Linked DNA regions of Homo sapiens: region 2 is linked to region 1. A link means that fine-mapping ties the variant in region 1 to the expression of a gene that starts in the linked region. Tissue or cell type: whole blood. Region 1 holds a variant in brackets; the other region holds the start of a gene. All regions are shown on one strand. Distances are between the middles of the regions.

Evidence for each region. PIP is the estimated chance that this variant, and not a neighbour inherited with it, causes the effect.
Region 2: it holds the start of PPP4R2, and the variant in region 1 is fine-mapped to the expression of PPP4R2 in whole blood (TOPMed, PIP 0.97).

What each region holds. Positions count from the first base shown.
Region 1 is chr3:73,062,669-73,070,853 of GRCh38, reverse strand. It overlaps PPP4R2 (protein phosphatase 4 regulatory subunit 2), which reads right to left. Exons shown (of 9, transcript NM_174907.4): 6 at 7,107-7,181; 7 at 6,708-6,851; 8 at 5,713-6,002; 9 at 1,656-5,457. The coding sequence ends at 5,132. EBLN2 (endogenous Bornavirus like nucleoprotein 2) reads right to left here. Exons shown (of 1, transcript NM_018029.4): 1 at 7,517-8,185. The coding sequence ends at 7,954. Among named protein-coding and RNA genes, the nearest start is that of EBLN2, 5.1 kb to the right of the region's middle. The variant T/A (reference allele first, on the strand shown) is at 3,289.
Region 2 is chr3:72,992,038-73,000,222 of GRCh38, reverse strand. PPP4R2 (protein phosphatase 4 regulatory subunit 2) reads right to left here and starts at 3,412. Exons shown (of 9, transcript NM_174907.4): 1 at 3,152-3,412; 2 at 2,065-2,146. The coding sequence starts at 3,185. LOC124909395 (a long non-coding RNA gene) reads left to right here and starts at 3,032. Exons shown (of 2, transcript XR_007095961.1): 1 at 3,032-3,116; 2 at 6,301-6,763. RefSeq lists enhancers at 2,428-2,477, 3,738-3,787 and a silencer at 2,928-3,557.

The DNA of each region.
Region 1 (8,185 bases):
CCCACAAACCTAGTAGCAAAGTTGCAGGGGTGACCTTAGCACACTTGAAGTGGGCAAAGTAGACACAGAATCGGTAAAACATAGGAATCTAAAGTGGGCTGTGGACCTACCACTTGCTTTCAATTTTGTTATCACTTGTCAAGCATGGGGCTAGCCTGTGAGGTTACAAAGATGAGTAAAACAGTGGAGATGGCAGACTAGTATACAGGGAATTGCTGGCATTTTGGAATATTCATTACTTTTAGTTATGGGAAGAAAAACTCTGAAAATGTACAAACAAAACCTAAAGATGACAAACTACTGCTAAAGTTTAAACTTAAAACGTTCTGAAGAATAAAAGGGAATTGCATACTCTTCATTTTAAATAGGGAAGAGTTCACGCAGTTTATTCCTAGCCAGTGGAAAAATCAGTCTTCCCATCATTAGCCCTGAACTACGTACTAGTTATACTATTTAGTAAACAAAATTAAGTGGGGGTAAGAGATCAAATATGAGAAGCTGAAAACTAAGACATTCTTAAGGTTAGAAACACACCGACTAGTACTCTCCTTAGTTCAGAGCCACAGATCTTACCCTCTACTGTAGCTACTGTGCGATAATATGCCTAGAGGGCCAGTCATGGTGGCTCATGTCTGTAATCCCAGCACTGTGGGAGGCTGAGGCGGGCAGATCACCTGATGTCAGGAGTTCAAGACCACCCTGGCCAACACTGTGAAACCCCATCTCTACGAAAAACATATATATACAAAAATGAGACGGGCATGGTGGTGCATGCCTGTAGTCCTAGCTACTCAGGAGGCTGAGGCAGGAGAATTGTTTGAACCCGGGAGGCAGAGGTTCCAGTGAGCCGAGACCGAGATCATACCACTGCACTCCAGCCTGGGCAACGGAGGAAGATTCCGTCCCAAAAACAAAAACAAAAAGAAGCATAGGAAAGGAGACCCACAGTTGAAAACAGAACCCTCCTCTCCACTTCAGGTAATTCTACACTTCTTACCATGTAGTTGCCTGAAGGTGGGATTTCAAAAATGATTTTTTTTATTTTTAAAGACGGACTCTCGATCTGTCGCCCAGGCTGGAGTGCAGTGGTGTGATCTCGGCTCACTGCAACCTCTGCCTCCCAGGTTCAAGCAATTCTCCTGCCTCAGCCTCCTGAGTAGCCGGGATTACAGGTGCCCACCACCACACCTGGCTAATTTTTGTTATTTTTAGTAGAGACGGGGTTTCATCATGTTGGCCAGGCTGGTCTCGAACTTCTGGCCTCAAGAGATCTACCTGCCTTGGCCTCAAGTGCTGGGATTACAGGCGTGAGCCACTGCGCCCAGCCTTTAAAATGATTAACACAAATATTGTAAATATATACATGTAAGCTAGTGCCAAATTATACCAGTGGAGACTTATTTAAATCTGGATTTTGTTGACAATCAGCATGACTTGCCTGGCAAAGAACCACAACTGTCAAGTCCTGCTGGAACACTTTGTCACCATGTAAGAAACAGGGCTGTAACAAAGTCACACATTGAGTTTCCTCAGTTAAGGATTTGAGGTGGGTGGTGGCGCAGGGTCGGGGGGGGTTGGGGGGGTTGGGGGGGAGTCGGAGTGGCAGCAGGGCAAATAAACCATTATGGCACATAAAATAATTACACACATAGAAATATTCTAATTTATATTTTATTGCATTATGAAAATAATACATTTGGCAAAGTAATCTAGGCTCCAAGTTGAAATAAAAGAAAATCCTGAAGAGTGTACTGATTTTTAAAATGTGAAATAGTAAGATGTAGTCTAACCAATACATACTAGCACTCTTATTAGGCCAAAACCCAGCAAACCTAATTTTTATAATTCCATATGAAATTACAAGGTGTTTTGCATTCATTCATTTTATGATTAGCACAAATCTTGAGAACTGACCCTCACCTTCATCAAAACCAATGTTAAATTCCTGTTCAGAAGACAATTTGAAACACTACCGAAAATTTTTAATTCCTTTGGTTTTGTAAGTTGCATTTTCATCCTTACCATGTTACATTTTTTTCATAATCAAACATTGTAGCAGCTTTAGATTCTGCCCAAGTACCTTTAAGTAAACTAGTATATTACATTTACATTATTTGAAAAGTTGATTTTACAAATGCAAAAATGCATAAATACATGCCTATCTACACCGGCAAAACAAAATACTCTGAATCTCAATGCTTTAACAAGCCACACCTTCTGGCCGAGGATTTCTGGGATGCCTTTCCAAGCCACAGGGCCTGGCTGGCAATTCCACTACTCCAAAACACACGTCTGAAAGGTGTAGTTACAATAAACCCTAAGCAGGTTAAATTTATCTAATAATCAACATTTAAAATATGACATTTTCACTACTTCTGCTACATTTTTCAGAACTGAAAATATATTTTTCAAAAATGTACAAGGATATTTTCACTTTTTAAAAGGGAAAAGTGCTAGAAACATAATACATATATATATATATATCTCACTTTCCTCATCACCATCTTCAAATTTTTTTTACATGTTGGGTTATAGTCTAGAGAACAGGTAAGCAATCTGCTCAAGGTCAGAAACAAAATATCTTTAATCACTGAGGTCTCCATTCTTCATTTAGATCTTTTAACAGGACTTTGCTTGATATATGTTAAGAAATATGCCTAAAATCACTTCTGTTCAGAAGTGAATCAGTTACTATTAGAACTGACATTTTCATTAAGCAAAGTCTGTGTTAAGTGCACCTATGAATACCTGCGGAAATTTACTTCCAAATGGCCATCAATATCTAAAACCAGCTGAACAAGGTTTCCCAATTTAACTACAGAAGTATTCCACCTACCCTAAAGATATTCCATGAGCATTCTACAATTATCTGTATAAACAGCAACAAGTTTGATCTATGATCAACATATGAATATCTAATAAATATTAAAACTATTAAACTATAGATTAAAATGCAGATCTCTCATAGAGTTAAGTGATGTCATTTTGGTACATTCACCATTATTGTACTTTATTTAATAAAGAAATACATTTGCCCTTGCAAATATAGCAATTGCAAGTTTACAAATAAAACCACAGACCTCAAAGTCATAATGCTAAATCTTCAACTTACAACCAACAAAAGTAAATCAATTTGTTTACAAATGGTCCATGGCACTACAATTAAAATAAAAAATATCAAAAGGTCACAGGATCTTAGGTAAGTTTACTGACAATTTCATAAATATTCAAAAGAAAATTTCAAAATTTGTAAACTTAAATTTGCCTCATTTTAACATTTTTGAAAAA[T/A]TTTTTAAAAATTTACAATGGTTAATTTTTCTCCCCTCTTGGGTATAGTAAATCAATATTCAGATTTTATTTCAACTATTAGACATAGTCATAAATATATCATCTAGCTGTTGTGAACCTGACAGTCAAGTCAGTCAGTAGTATATTATCCTACAAACATAAATGGATCCAAATCGTTTTGGTATTTATAGCCATGATGATTTAAGTAGTCAAAACGCAAAACTTGTGGTTGCCCCCCAAATCACCCAAAAGCATATTATACAGTGTCAGAAACTGTTTGCATCAGTTTTAGAAGCTCATCTGTGTAGTTCAGGTATCTGAAACTAAAAAAGGGGGGATTCTTTCATATTTTGATAAAAATGTAGTCAAATATTTCATAACATTAATATTTATTGCTTTATATGAATACTGTATTGAAAGCCCAAGCATTCAGTTTACACACAGAAATTATACAATTATATACCGCTTCACAAAGGCAGTGAACACATTACATTCTACAAAATCTACTTTACAGAAATTTAAAAACTTTAAATATCAAAAGGTACAGCTGAAGAAACAGGTATAAATTTGGCAGCCAGTAATTTTGACAGGGAAGTTACAGCTTGCATGACTTTAAATATGTAAATTTGAAAATACTGAATTTCGAGTAATCATTGTGCTTTGTGTTGATCTGAAAAATATAACACTGGCTGTCGAAGAAGCATGTTCAAAAATATTTAATTCACTTCAAAATGTCATACAAATTATGGTGGTTTCTATGCACCCCTAAAGCTTCAGTCATTTAGCTCAGGTACATACTAAAGTAATATATTAATTCTTCCAGTACAGTGGTGTTTCATACCATTGACATTTGCATACCCTAGAATAATTTAGAAAGACATGTGTAATATTCACAATGTTCAGAAAAGCAAGCAAAAGGTCAAGGAACCTACTTGGTTCTTCTGAGATGGTCTCATATCAGCTTCATAAACATTCATTCTACAAAATAGTAAGCTAACATTTGAACACAATTTCCAAGATAAAGCATATTTTCTCATAAATAATGAAGTCTTTTTCTCAGGCACCTCAGAAGTATACAAAAGAATTTGAGTTTGAACAGATCTCTTGGAATGTGTTTAACCTGGTATTTCAACAGACTTAAGATTTCCAGGGTTTCACAAGGGCCAGATTTTATTTCAATTACTCAGAAGAGAAAGAAAATGTCTTCTGAAAGAGGTGAACTCAATCATTACCAATAGAAAAAGTATCCACTGTATTCATCTCTTATAGAAACAGAAAAATATAACATTTCCCCCCTTAGAATTATATATATATATATATATATATGTATGTATATATGACTTAAAGTTCCATTGTACGTAGCCAAACAATAAAATCTGGAAACCAGCATGAAACCCTATAATTCACATGTTAAAATGTTGAAACTATGACCAAAATATGAAAACTGCTAGAGCTATCAGAAAGAGACAAGACAAAAAGCTTCTTGCATATGTATAAACTAAATGTGATAATCTCAAAAAACTTTTCAAAATTGTAATTACTTTCCAGTTTAAAAACTTCAATCCTAAATTAAAAAAAAAAAAAAATCTATACACAAACCACTGATTTGCCCAGACCAAAAAAAGAAAGAAAGAAAAGTCAGCGGTAAGGTAAGCAGGACCCAGAGGAGCTGATATTCACAGTTCTTACATGTACAACTCTTTCAGGAATTATCCATAAAGTACTTTATTTTACAACCTGCTTCTCTTGTAAAACTAAAGGTCCATTTTATTACACAAAAGTTTTATACAGTGTTAAAACCAGAACTGTATGTAAAATACTGCATCTAAATGTTTCTAAATAGTTAGTCTTGTTCCATTGGTTCATCGGTGACTTCTGTGGCTTCGTCATCATTTTCCATGGATGATTCTGAAAGAATCTCTCCAGTTTTACTGGAATTGGATCCTACTAATTCTTCTGTTTCACGGCAGTCAGAAGAACTACTACTTACAGGGCCTTCGTTTTCACTACCTTCAGAATGTAGCAAATCTTTCTCAGCTTGAGACACATCAGATTCCTCCATTTGATTATTTTCCTCAGAAGTCTCTTCATTCACAGTTAAGGCATCATCAGATTCTTTTTCTTGATTTTTTCTTTCTGGGATCATTTCTCTTGATGTCATAAAAGACTCTAAAAATAAGCAAATGTTGTTGTAGTTAAATTGTATTTTCAAAATACCTCCACAGTTAAGTTTCATGAATTCTGATATTCTATAGTTCAAATCACATCCCCTGAAATTCAGCAGCAACTACATACAGGTGGGAGAAAAGCCCAACATCAGCATTATAAGGAGTTCCATTACGTAAAATTCTTTCACGAAAAAAATGAAGTACAAGAATTTGAGGATCTCCTTACTCCACCCTTTTACAGATGGTCTCTAAATACCTTCTTCTTCCTCTTCATCCTCTTCTTCATCCTCTTCTGTACAGTGCTGCCGGGTACAACGGCTATCTTTGTCTTTATCCTGAGATGAAGATGATGCTTCTGTTTCTCCTACCATAACTGAAGAAATTTCGCTGGAAGTCGTTTGACTGGCTGTTTCTCTGACTTCACCTTCTTTGTCAAACCTGAGTCTTTTTACCTCATGCCCCTCAGCTTCCACAGCATCTTCATCTGGATGTTTATTTTTCAAAGGGCTCACTGAGGAAACTTCTGATTCAGAGGTCGAAGAGTCACTGTAAATGTTTTTTTAAAGTGTCATTAATAAGATTATTTTCCCCATCTTCTACATCCCCATTTTTAAGGTTAAATAATGTTTTAAATTGTATTTCAGTGTCAAAGTTAAATTATAACACCTGAACAAAGAAAAACACAAGAGAATAATTTCAAGGTAAACTAAACTGTTTGATGAATAATTCCCAGTAGGACTCAGAAAAGCTATATGACCTTTCTGTGCAATTCTCCAGTAAGTTAAATATTCTCCTACAATAAACCCGCAAGTCTTCCATACGGACATACTCTCTTAAGTCCTCTCCCTCATTTAGTCTTCCTTCCCTTAATGTGATACAGAAAATTTGAAGATATAAACAAAAGGTGTCCTTTTATGAACTACAATGAGAAACGACTCACAAAAATCAACTTATTTATAAAGATCATTTCTTTTCAAGTAACTTTCAGAAACAACAAATGAAATGGATCATCATATCTACGTTACTTTTAGACCCTACATAAACAGTCTCCACAAATTAGCAGTTTTAAGTCTTGTCTATGTCCACCTTCAACATTTGCTACAGCTGCAAAGAGAAGCCAGTGCTCCTATAAACCGCATGAAAACCTTGTTCTGTCCCTCAGAACTTATAAATAGTAAGTGATAAGTACTGATTAAATGTTAACTTTAACTTTTAATAAAAACACTGTTTTTAAATATAAAACATACAAACCTGTGATTTTTCTCCTCATTTTGCTGCAAATTTGCCTCTTTGCTGTCTGTGCTCTCAGGCAACCCATTTGTTGTCATGGGGGCTGACAAAGAAACCTTTGGTCGATTAAGTGGCCTGGGTGTCCCAGGCCCATTTATATTAGACCTATAATAAGATAAATGAACATCATTTCCTATTTTTATAAAAAGTCATCCCTCTTAAGGTATGTTGATGTGAATACATCACAGAAGTATTTGCTGCAACTTTGTTTTCAGGCCCATGCCTTACCAAATTAACTAATTCTATGTAGTTCATCCTATGGTGTCCATAAAATGCCCAATTTTTAAAAAGTACACTAAGCCTGCTACTCAAAATCAGGACAATGCAAACTCTGTAGGTATTAAAAATCTAGAATCTCACCTCTCAGTATAGCTTGGTGAATTTCCAGGAAACATAACACCATTCATTCGATTTAAACTATTGGAATTGTTTTTCCTATAAGAAAAGAAAATACACTTGTGGATGACTTAATTTTTTTTTAGATGGAGTCTGGCTCTGTCACCCAAGGTGGAATGGAGTGCAGTGGTGCAATCTCAGCTCACTGCAACCTCCACTTCCCAGGTTCAAGCAATTCTTATGCCTCAGCCTCCCAAGTAGCTGGGATGACAGACGTGTGATGCCATGCGCAGCTATTTTTTTTATTTTTAGTAGAGACGGGGTTTTGCCATGTTGGCCAGGCTAGCCTCAAACTCATGACCTCAAGTGATCGGCCCACCTCGGCCTCCCAAAGTGCTGGGATTACAGGCGTTAAGCCACCACACCTGGACTTTTTTTTTTTTTTTTTTTTTTAAATAATGAGAATTAGTTCATGTTAGGAGTGCATGGATCTATGATTCCACCCAACACTCCCCCCTCAAGATCTTACGGGGTAGATGCCATTTGAAGCAAAGGGAGTGTGATGGTTGATCCTGGTATAACATCAGGAGCTTTAAATCCCAAAAATGTGGGGTTGCTCATCTTGGCCCAGTAGTTTGCCGCTGTTGCTAAGTTTGGGAACATTCGTGGTGACAGCTCCCCAATAATGGGGTGGCAAAGTACACCCCCAAACTCAAAATATTTCCCCAATGCCTTTTTAACCATTGTTTTTTTTCTCCTCAAAGACTGGGATCTCAGACACAATGGCCCGTAGAGCAATGGAGCCATCCATGCACTGATCTAGAAACATTCTCACAGCATTAATAGGTTGTCATCTGTGCTTTCTTGGCAACTAACTTGACTTGCGTAGCTTGTGTAGAGGGGATTCAAAGTCTCCAAATAGAAGTGTGAACATTAATTCTCCAACCCATGGTCTTGAGCTGATCCAACCTATGGCTGATTCTGCATTGCAGCTGATTAGCAGATCAGCACTCTCACCATGTGAAAGTCTTCCAATAGATGCCATCATTGCCTTGAATCGTCTCTGAACTTGGAGACTGCTGGTGCAAATCTTATCACTTGAT
Region 2 (8,185 bases), 71 kb after region 1:
AGCTGGGACTATAGGCATGTACCAACACACTCAGGTAACTTAAATTTTTTGTCCTGAGCTCAAGTGACCCACTGTTTCCCAAAGTGCTGAGATACAGGCATGAGCCACCACATCCGGTGGAAATGCTTATCTTAAGCAATCCACCCATCCTAAAACATCAGAAAAGTCTAAATTGCTGTTCTTTAAATTTTCATTTTCATTCTCTCGTTACAATCTCACATACTAGACAAAGCTTAGTTTAGCCATAAATAGGTAGCAGAAACTCTGCAAATGTCAGTATCAAAGATATGCCATGTTGATAAAAAGAAATCAAAGCTTAAAGCTAAATGCATAAACACTGGCTGCTATTTACATAATAAAATAAAAAATATTTTCCAAATTCCATTGAATATAAGAATCTAACTACACCAATCATTTCAGTACAAAACATGCTTAGTGAATACATAAACACCGAATATGGGGTGGAGGATTGGGAATTTTAAGTCCTCTTCTACCAGGATAAAATAACTGTCCAAAAAAAATCAGATAACTTCCCCAGCCACTTGGTGTTCCAGTAAGACAGGATATTAAAAAGCTATCTTTTAGAAACTTTCAATTATTTATACATTTATAGGCAATGTACTTTATCAAAAAGGGAAAGCAGTGTGTACAAACCTGATAAACTGAGTAAGACGTTTTAAGTACTCATCTCCAAATAGTTTGATATCATCTTGTATATCAAAAAACAGCCAAAAGTAAAATGCTATTTGGCTTGACATTGTTGACAGGGCTAAGTCTGTGCCGACTAGCAATTCAAGAGGAATAGTGGCAGTCTAAGCATTTATGTTTTAGGGATTAATTTATTTTTGAAAGATGGCATGTGGTCATTTTTAGGCTTATCTATATAAGCACAAATTAACAGTTTTACATTGTTCTAAATCAAGATGTTCTATATGAAACCCTAATGCGAAGGTAAAAATGACTTCCCCCGCCCAGAGGGTCCCATTTTTTAATGTAATAAATAGAAATACAACATTGAACACATCACACTGACGTTCTCAAAATGACTGGTGTATTTTAATAGAATACTAAGGAGACTCAGCTTGCAGGCATGACCATTAAATCAAGCACTGAGGCAGCAAAGGTTTTTTTCTTTCTAAAATTAGGCTAGTTGTTAAAAGGCTAGACTACAAATAAGCAAATCTTGTGAGAAATGAACACTTGCTAATAATAAAGCCAGAGAAATTATACAATTCTTGCTGAAAGCTACACTCATACTGGGCAGATAACCCACTTATTAACATTGAAACCATAGAAACCTACCCCTTTCCTGCTGCCCCAGCCCCCACCCAAAGACTACAAAAAGAAGTCATCAAAGATGCACTGTTGTCTACAAATAAACTTAGCCAGATTGTGTCTACCACACAAACTGCAAAACAATGACCTGGAATGTTCCTTCTGAACACAGCCCTAACTTTATAGCGTAAGTTTCAGATTCAGAACATTTGGAAACGAGCTGAATAAAATGCTGAGCATATGTAACAAGTCAGCTATCTTAGAAAGTCTACAAGTCAAAACTGTAGCATCTGGAATTTGTCAGATAATAACAGAGTCCTCCAGACGATAAATAGAAGTGACACTTTAAACACCTACATATGCAAATATGACCAAAAAAAGGCTGGACACACGACAATATGAGAAAATACCACCAAGACTCTGAAACAGAATCAAAGCCACAAAATTCTAGGAATAAGCCTATTTGTTATGGCCAAAAAGGGTCATAATGGAATAGGCATTCTTCCTTTCTCTGGCTCGTTAAGACTAATACATTCTCTAAGCGTGCCAAAGCCTAGCTATAAAGAAAATTTTAACATACACAGGTTTTTAAAATCCGTTACAGACCATGTATAAAGTAAGTAAGCGTATACGTTCTTTAAATGTAAATATATAAATTATTTAAATGACCAGGACTTCTACAATTTAGAATGAATTATTTAATTATCCCAAAATATACTTTTTTCCCTTTCCTGAGCAATTCTTAATAATGCACTGGTCTATAACGACAAATGCATGTTTTCAACTCACATTGTTTCTCCAGTCTTGGCTACATGACAAAGAAACTGATCCAGGACAGGACAAACTTCCTTTTTCCCCCTCTTCTCAAAATCTAGATGAAGGAAGAAAAAAAAACGTTATCAGTTTTCTCAAAAGCGCTCTAAAAACAAACTTTCCTCCTAGTCCTTTACCTTATTAAAAATCAATTAAATACAAAATTAAAAAAATAAGGCCTCTCAACCAAATTACCACCTCAATCCTCCAAGTTCTACTTCCAACATGTCACCCTCTTTACAGATAACAAGAATCCTCCTAAAGGGGGCACTCAACTTCACAAACCATTTTTAACGCAGTGCTTCTCGAAGTGTGGTCCGGGGGAACACCAGCATTATATTAAGCTGGGAATCCAGTGAAAATAAAAATCCCCAGGCCCCGACTCCCACCAATTGTTCATCTAAGTCCATAAATCTGCCTTTCTAAGAAGCACCAACTACCCCAAGTTGCCGTCCCCAAATGATTCTGAATGTCAAAGAATAATTCTCAAAACGCTGAAATCTCTCTACTCGAAGTTTGTAAGCCACTGTTCTCAAGCCTGTTGCGTGGAAGGCGTGCAATCAAGAACAGTGAAGGCAACCACCTCGAAATTAGGGCGCGGAAAGATGACTTCAAAAGCCCTGAAAAAGGCATACTGAGACAACTTAAAAGTTGCGATGCTACCCCCTACCCCCGCCCCCACCAACCGTTTACTTTTTCTCCCACCCCAACGCCTAGCGTACGGGTAGCCTGGTGGAGAAAAGAGGATATCTGGGAGGGAGGGGTCTGCGGGTCCGCCACTCGTCCCCTGAACGGGTGGGAGAAAGACTGGGGCCCCCGCAAGAGTTTCCCCGGCTCCCCTCCCCCAGCCCAGACGCCGGCGGCCGACACAAAGCCAGAGCGGGGCGGGAGAGAGCTGCCCACAGGGCTCCCCGCCCCTGGGGAGGTGGAGGGGGATGGGAGCCCGGGAAGCACTCTCCCCACGCCGCGCCCGGCCCCGGTCCTCGGAACCATCCGCCCTGAAAGGAGAGAAGAGCGAGCCGGAGAAGGTGAGGGGGAATGGAGAGGGGGCAGCTACCCCCACCTTTCAGCGCCTCCTGGAGCCTCTCGACGTCCATGGCTTCCCGGAGTCCCTCACAGCCTCCGCCTCCCTCCGCGGGTCTCTTGGGGACCGGAACGCCTCCCCCCACCCCCCCGACGCCCTCCCCCTCCCTCGCACACACTCCGGCACGCAGGCGACCGGGGGGGGGAAACGAAGGGAGCCGGGGGAAGCGTGCGAGAGAGCAAGACCGACAGAGCGAGCACCTCCCCAAGCCGCTACCACCAACCCTCCAACATGGCGCCCGGTACGTCACCGCGCGCACGCTCCCTGCCGCCGTCCTCGCTCCCGCCGCGCGCTCCGGCCCGGAACCCGAGAGCGCGTGCGCGGCCGAGGTGTGACGCTGGGGCCCAGTGGCGTCTGCGTCCCGGCGGCTTCCAGAGCCTCAGCCCCAGCCCCAGCCCCAGGCCCAGGCTCCGCGGAGCTGAAGACTGGACGGTCAGGCGAGAGGGTTGCAGGCGGACTCCTAGGCTTTGAATCCCTGCCATTTCCTCTCTGTGTGAACTTAAGCTACTTACTTCGCCTGTCTGAGCCTCATTTTCCCCATCTGTACAGTAAGGGCACTGGTACTGATGCCCTATGCAGTTGCTGTGAGAATTCAGTGTATACACTTCACGTTCAGAATGCGCCTAAAAAACGTAGAGCGAGGCCGGGCAGGGGGCTCAGGCCGGTGATCCCAACACTTTGGGAGGGAGGCCGAGGCGAGAGGATCGCTTGAGCCCAGGAGTTCGAGACCAGTCTGGGTAACAAAATGACCCCGCTCCCTCGCCCTTCTCTATATAAAAATAAATACAGGCCGGGCGCGGTGACTCAAGCCTGTAATCCCAGCACTTTGGGAGGCTGGGGCGGGCGGAGCACCTGAAGTCAGGAGTTGAAGACCAACCTGGCCAACATGGCGAAACCCCGTCTCTACTAAAAATACAAAATGTAGTCGGGCGTGGTCGCTCGTGCCTGTAATCCCAGTTACTCGGGAGGCTGAGGCACGAGAATCGCTTGAATCCAGGAGGCGGAGGTTGCAGTGAGCCGATATCGCGCCACTGCCTCCAGCCTAGGCGACAAAGCGAGACTGTTTCAAAAAAATAATAATAAAATTAACAATACATACATACACTAAGCATTGCTAATAATCCTAACAAGAATACCTCCCTGCTTAACCCAACGTTCGTTCGTCACTGGCCCACCTGTGGCAAGAAGTAATGTATACAGCAAAGTCATTAAGAGCTCAAGGTTTGGAATCAATATTCAAATCCCAACTCAACTACTTACTCCTTGTGTGGCCCTGAAGTAGTTACCTAAACTCAGGCAGCTTCAGGGTTCTTATTTATAAAATGAGGGTTGTAAAACGGCCACGAGGATTGAGTGAAATGGCAAATGTGAAACATTTGGCACAGTGCGTGAAACCTGGAACACTCAACGTGGCTGGGTTTTTATTACCACTGTTAGCATTATTACATGACATAATCTCCCAGGAGGTAGGAGAGGGCGGAAACCTCAGAAGTCCTCTGCAGCCCTGACATTTTACAAATGGGAAAGCTGTGTCACAGACAGCAAGTCTGGGGAGACAGAACTAGAACCCAGAACCCAAATCATCTGGCTCCCAGCCAGTGCGTGGACATTTTTATACTCATCTGTGAGCTTTTAAAAGAAAAGGTACTGCCCGGGCACGGTGGCTCACACCTGTATTCCCAACACTTCGGGAGTCTGAGGCAGGCGGATCACCTGAGGTCAGGAGTTTGATACCAGCCAGGCCAACATGGCAAAACCCTGTCTCTGCTAAAAATACAAAAAAAAAAAAATTAGCTGGGCTTGGTGGCGGGCACCTGTAATCGCAGCTACTCGGGAGGCTGAGGCAGGAGAATCCCTTGAACCCTGGAGGCTGAGGTTGCAGTGAGCCGAGATACTCCAGCCACTGTACTCCAGCCTGGGCACGACAGAATGGGACTCCGTCTCAAAAAAAAAAAAAAAAAAAAAAAAAAGAGAGAGAGAGAAAGAAAAGAAAAGGTACTGCGTTGTTCCACCTCCTCTTCCCAAAACCCAGCATAGCACAAAGTCATGGAAGGAAGGAGGGGAGAGAAGGACCAAGGGAGGGAAGGAAGGTTATTGTTTGGTCTAAGAAGATGCAAGTTTGGACACAGCCTTTACACTGTTGACCCTCTTAAAAGACAGTGGGTCTGACCCTGATCCTAGGTGGTAGATGTAGGCAAAAGACATTCACACCCAAAATAGCTCTCTCAAATTGTGCCATCAGAGAACCAGTCCCCTGTGTCTTTAGACCTTCGTTGTTCAGAGCATCTAGCTCAATTACAAATATCCTTGCAGAGAGAGGGAATAGGGTAGCACATCAAGCACTTGGCCAGCACTTGCCAGGCACCAGGTTTAGTTTATCCAGGTCCCTTCCAGTCTGAAAGGGCCTACTGCCTACATGGCAAAGCTTAGCCTCTCCTTCTATCTGCCACTCTACTATTCAGAAGGGTCTCTTACTGTAAGAGCTCTGCTGTACAGTAGATATTAGCCATGTGTGAATATTGAAATTTAAATTAATTAAAATTAAATAAAATTTAAAATTCAGTTCCTGAGTTCTTCAATAAAAATCCAATTCTTTTTTTTTTCTTTTTTCTTTTCCTTTTTTTTTTTTTGAGACGGAGTCTTGCTCTGTCGTCCAGGCTGGAGTGCAGTGGCGTGATCTCAGCTCACTGCAACCTGTGCCTCCCGGGTTCAAGCAGTTCTCTGCCTCAGCCTCTCGAGTAGCTGGGATTACAGGCTCCCACCACCACGCCCAGCTAATTTTTGTATTTTTAGTAGAGACGGGGTTTCACCATATTGTCCAGGCTGGTCTTGAACTCTGGACCTTGTGATCCACCCGCCGCAGCCTCCCAAAGTGCTGGGATTACAGGTGTGAGCCACCGCCCCTGGCCTAAAAATCCAATTCTTTGGTCACACCAGCCACATTTTAAGTGCTCAGTAGCTACATGTGGCTAGTGGCTCCTGTATTGGATAGTTCAGATAAAGAAAATTTCATTATTGCAAAAAGTTCTATTGGAACTTTCTGTTGGAGAACACATTATGCTAATTTCTAACACTGTTTTGTCCCTTTCATTGCTGTCAGCTTAACTGAATTTCTTATGGTTTTTCAGATCCCACCTGGTCTTCAGATAATCAAGGCTTGTGCCCCTCTGGTTAGCTCCTCCTCTCCAATGCACTTTGCTACATTCCTCTGCAAATTCAGATCTCTACTTAAACACCACTTCCTCTGGTACACTTTCCACGATTCCCTTAGGCTGTCATTGCTGTGTGCACTTTGTCGCCCGTCATAGACCTTATCCAGTGTCTGGAAGTCAAGATTACAAGGGGAGAAGAGGCAAAAGATGAGGCTGAAAAAATAACTTCGTTTGGTTCATTCCTTCCTTCTTCCTTGAATTCTTCTCCAGCCGGCCTGTATCACAATGTCTGCAATTACTAGAGCCTCCTACTGGCTGGGCATGGTGGCTCACACCTGTAATCTCGGTACTCTGGGAAGCCAAGGCTGGAGGATCACTTGAGACCAGCCCAGCAACATGTCTCTACAAAAAATAAAAAATTACCAGGGGTAGTGGCGCACACCTGTAGTACTAGCTACTTGGGAGGCTAGGAGGATTACTTGAGCCCAGGAATTTAAGTCTGCAGTGAGCCGGGATCATGCCACTGTAATCCATCCTGGGCCACAAACATAGTGAGACCCTGACTCAAAAATAAAAAATAGAATAATAAGCCTCCTACTGATGCCGATTTCCTGGGAAGAAAACAGAATACAAATGTGGCAACCAGCCCCCACAATTACCCCTCATGATCCTCACTTGCTGAGATTCATGCCCTAGTATAATCAGGCACACCAAATCACAGCTGTCTGTGTGAAGGCACTAGGGCTTCTGCCTTGGCCTCTTGAATTGGTAAATGGGGCCTCAATGGGGGAAGCCAGCTGCCATGTCATGAGAACATTAGACAGTCTTGTGGAAAGGCCCCACAGAGAGAAGAACTGTCCTTGAAGGTGGATCCTCCAGCCTCAGGAATTCCTTCAGGTAACTGCAGCCCCAGCTGACATCTGGATCACAACCTTAGCAGACATCCCACACTAGAGCAGCCCATCTAAGTCACTTCCCAATACCTGATCCACAGAAACTGTAAAAGGTGACAATGTCTATAACTGTTCTAAGCCTCTAAATTTTAGAAACTAATGCAACAAATAAGAAATTTAATAGTAACAGCTAATATTTATTAAATACTTTCATGTGTCTGGCATTCTCCTAAGCAGTTTACAAAACTATCAAAAAGTGTCTCCTAAGCAGTTTACAAAAGTATTTAATTGAATCCTCACAAAATCCTATGAGGATCCTCCTCACTTAACAGAAAAGAAAACTGAAATATAGAGGCCCAGCACAGTGGCTCACGCCTGTAATTCCAGCACTTTGAAAGGCCGAGGCGGGTGGATCACCTGAGGTGAGAAGCTGGAGACCAGCCTGGCCAACGTGATGAAACCCCATCTCTACTAAAAATATGAAAATTAGCTGGGCGTGGTGGTGGGCGCCTGTAATCCGAGCTACTCGGGAAGCTGAGGCAGGAGAATTGCTTGAACCCAAGAGGCAGAGCTTGCAATGAGCCAAGATCACGCCACTGCACTCCAGCCTGGGTGACAAGAGCGAAACTCAAGAAAGAGAGAGAGAGAGAGAGAGAGAGAGAGAAGGGAGGGAGGGAGGGAAGGAAAGAAGGAAAAGAAAAGAAAAGAAAGAAAGAAAAAGAAAGAAAGGGAAAGAAAGAAAACGGAAATATAAAGAGGTGAAATTGCTTGCACAAAATCACACAACTACATAGGCAGGTGACTGACCCATGATTCAAACCTAGACTGGCTTCAGAGCCCCCAAACACTTTCTTGTCCTCAAGAAGTTTGCAAAATACTAGGAAAGATAAGATGTAAGTGTAGGCCCTCATGCAAGGTAGAAGGCAAAGCTGTGTATCAGATATTCAGAGGCCTGCAAAATTTCTTCC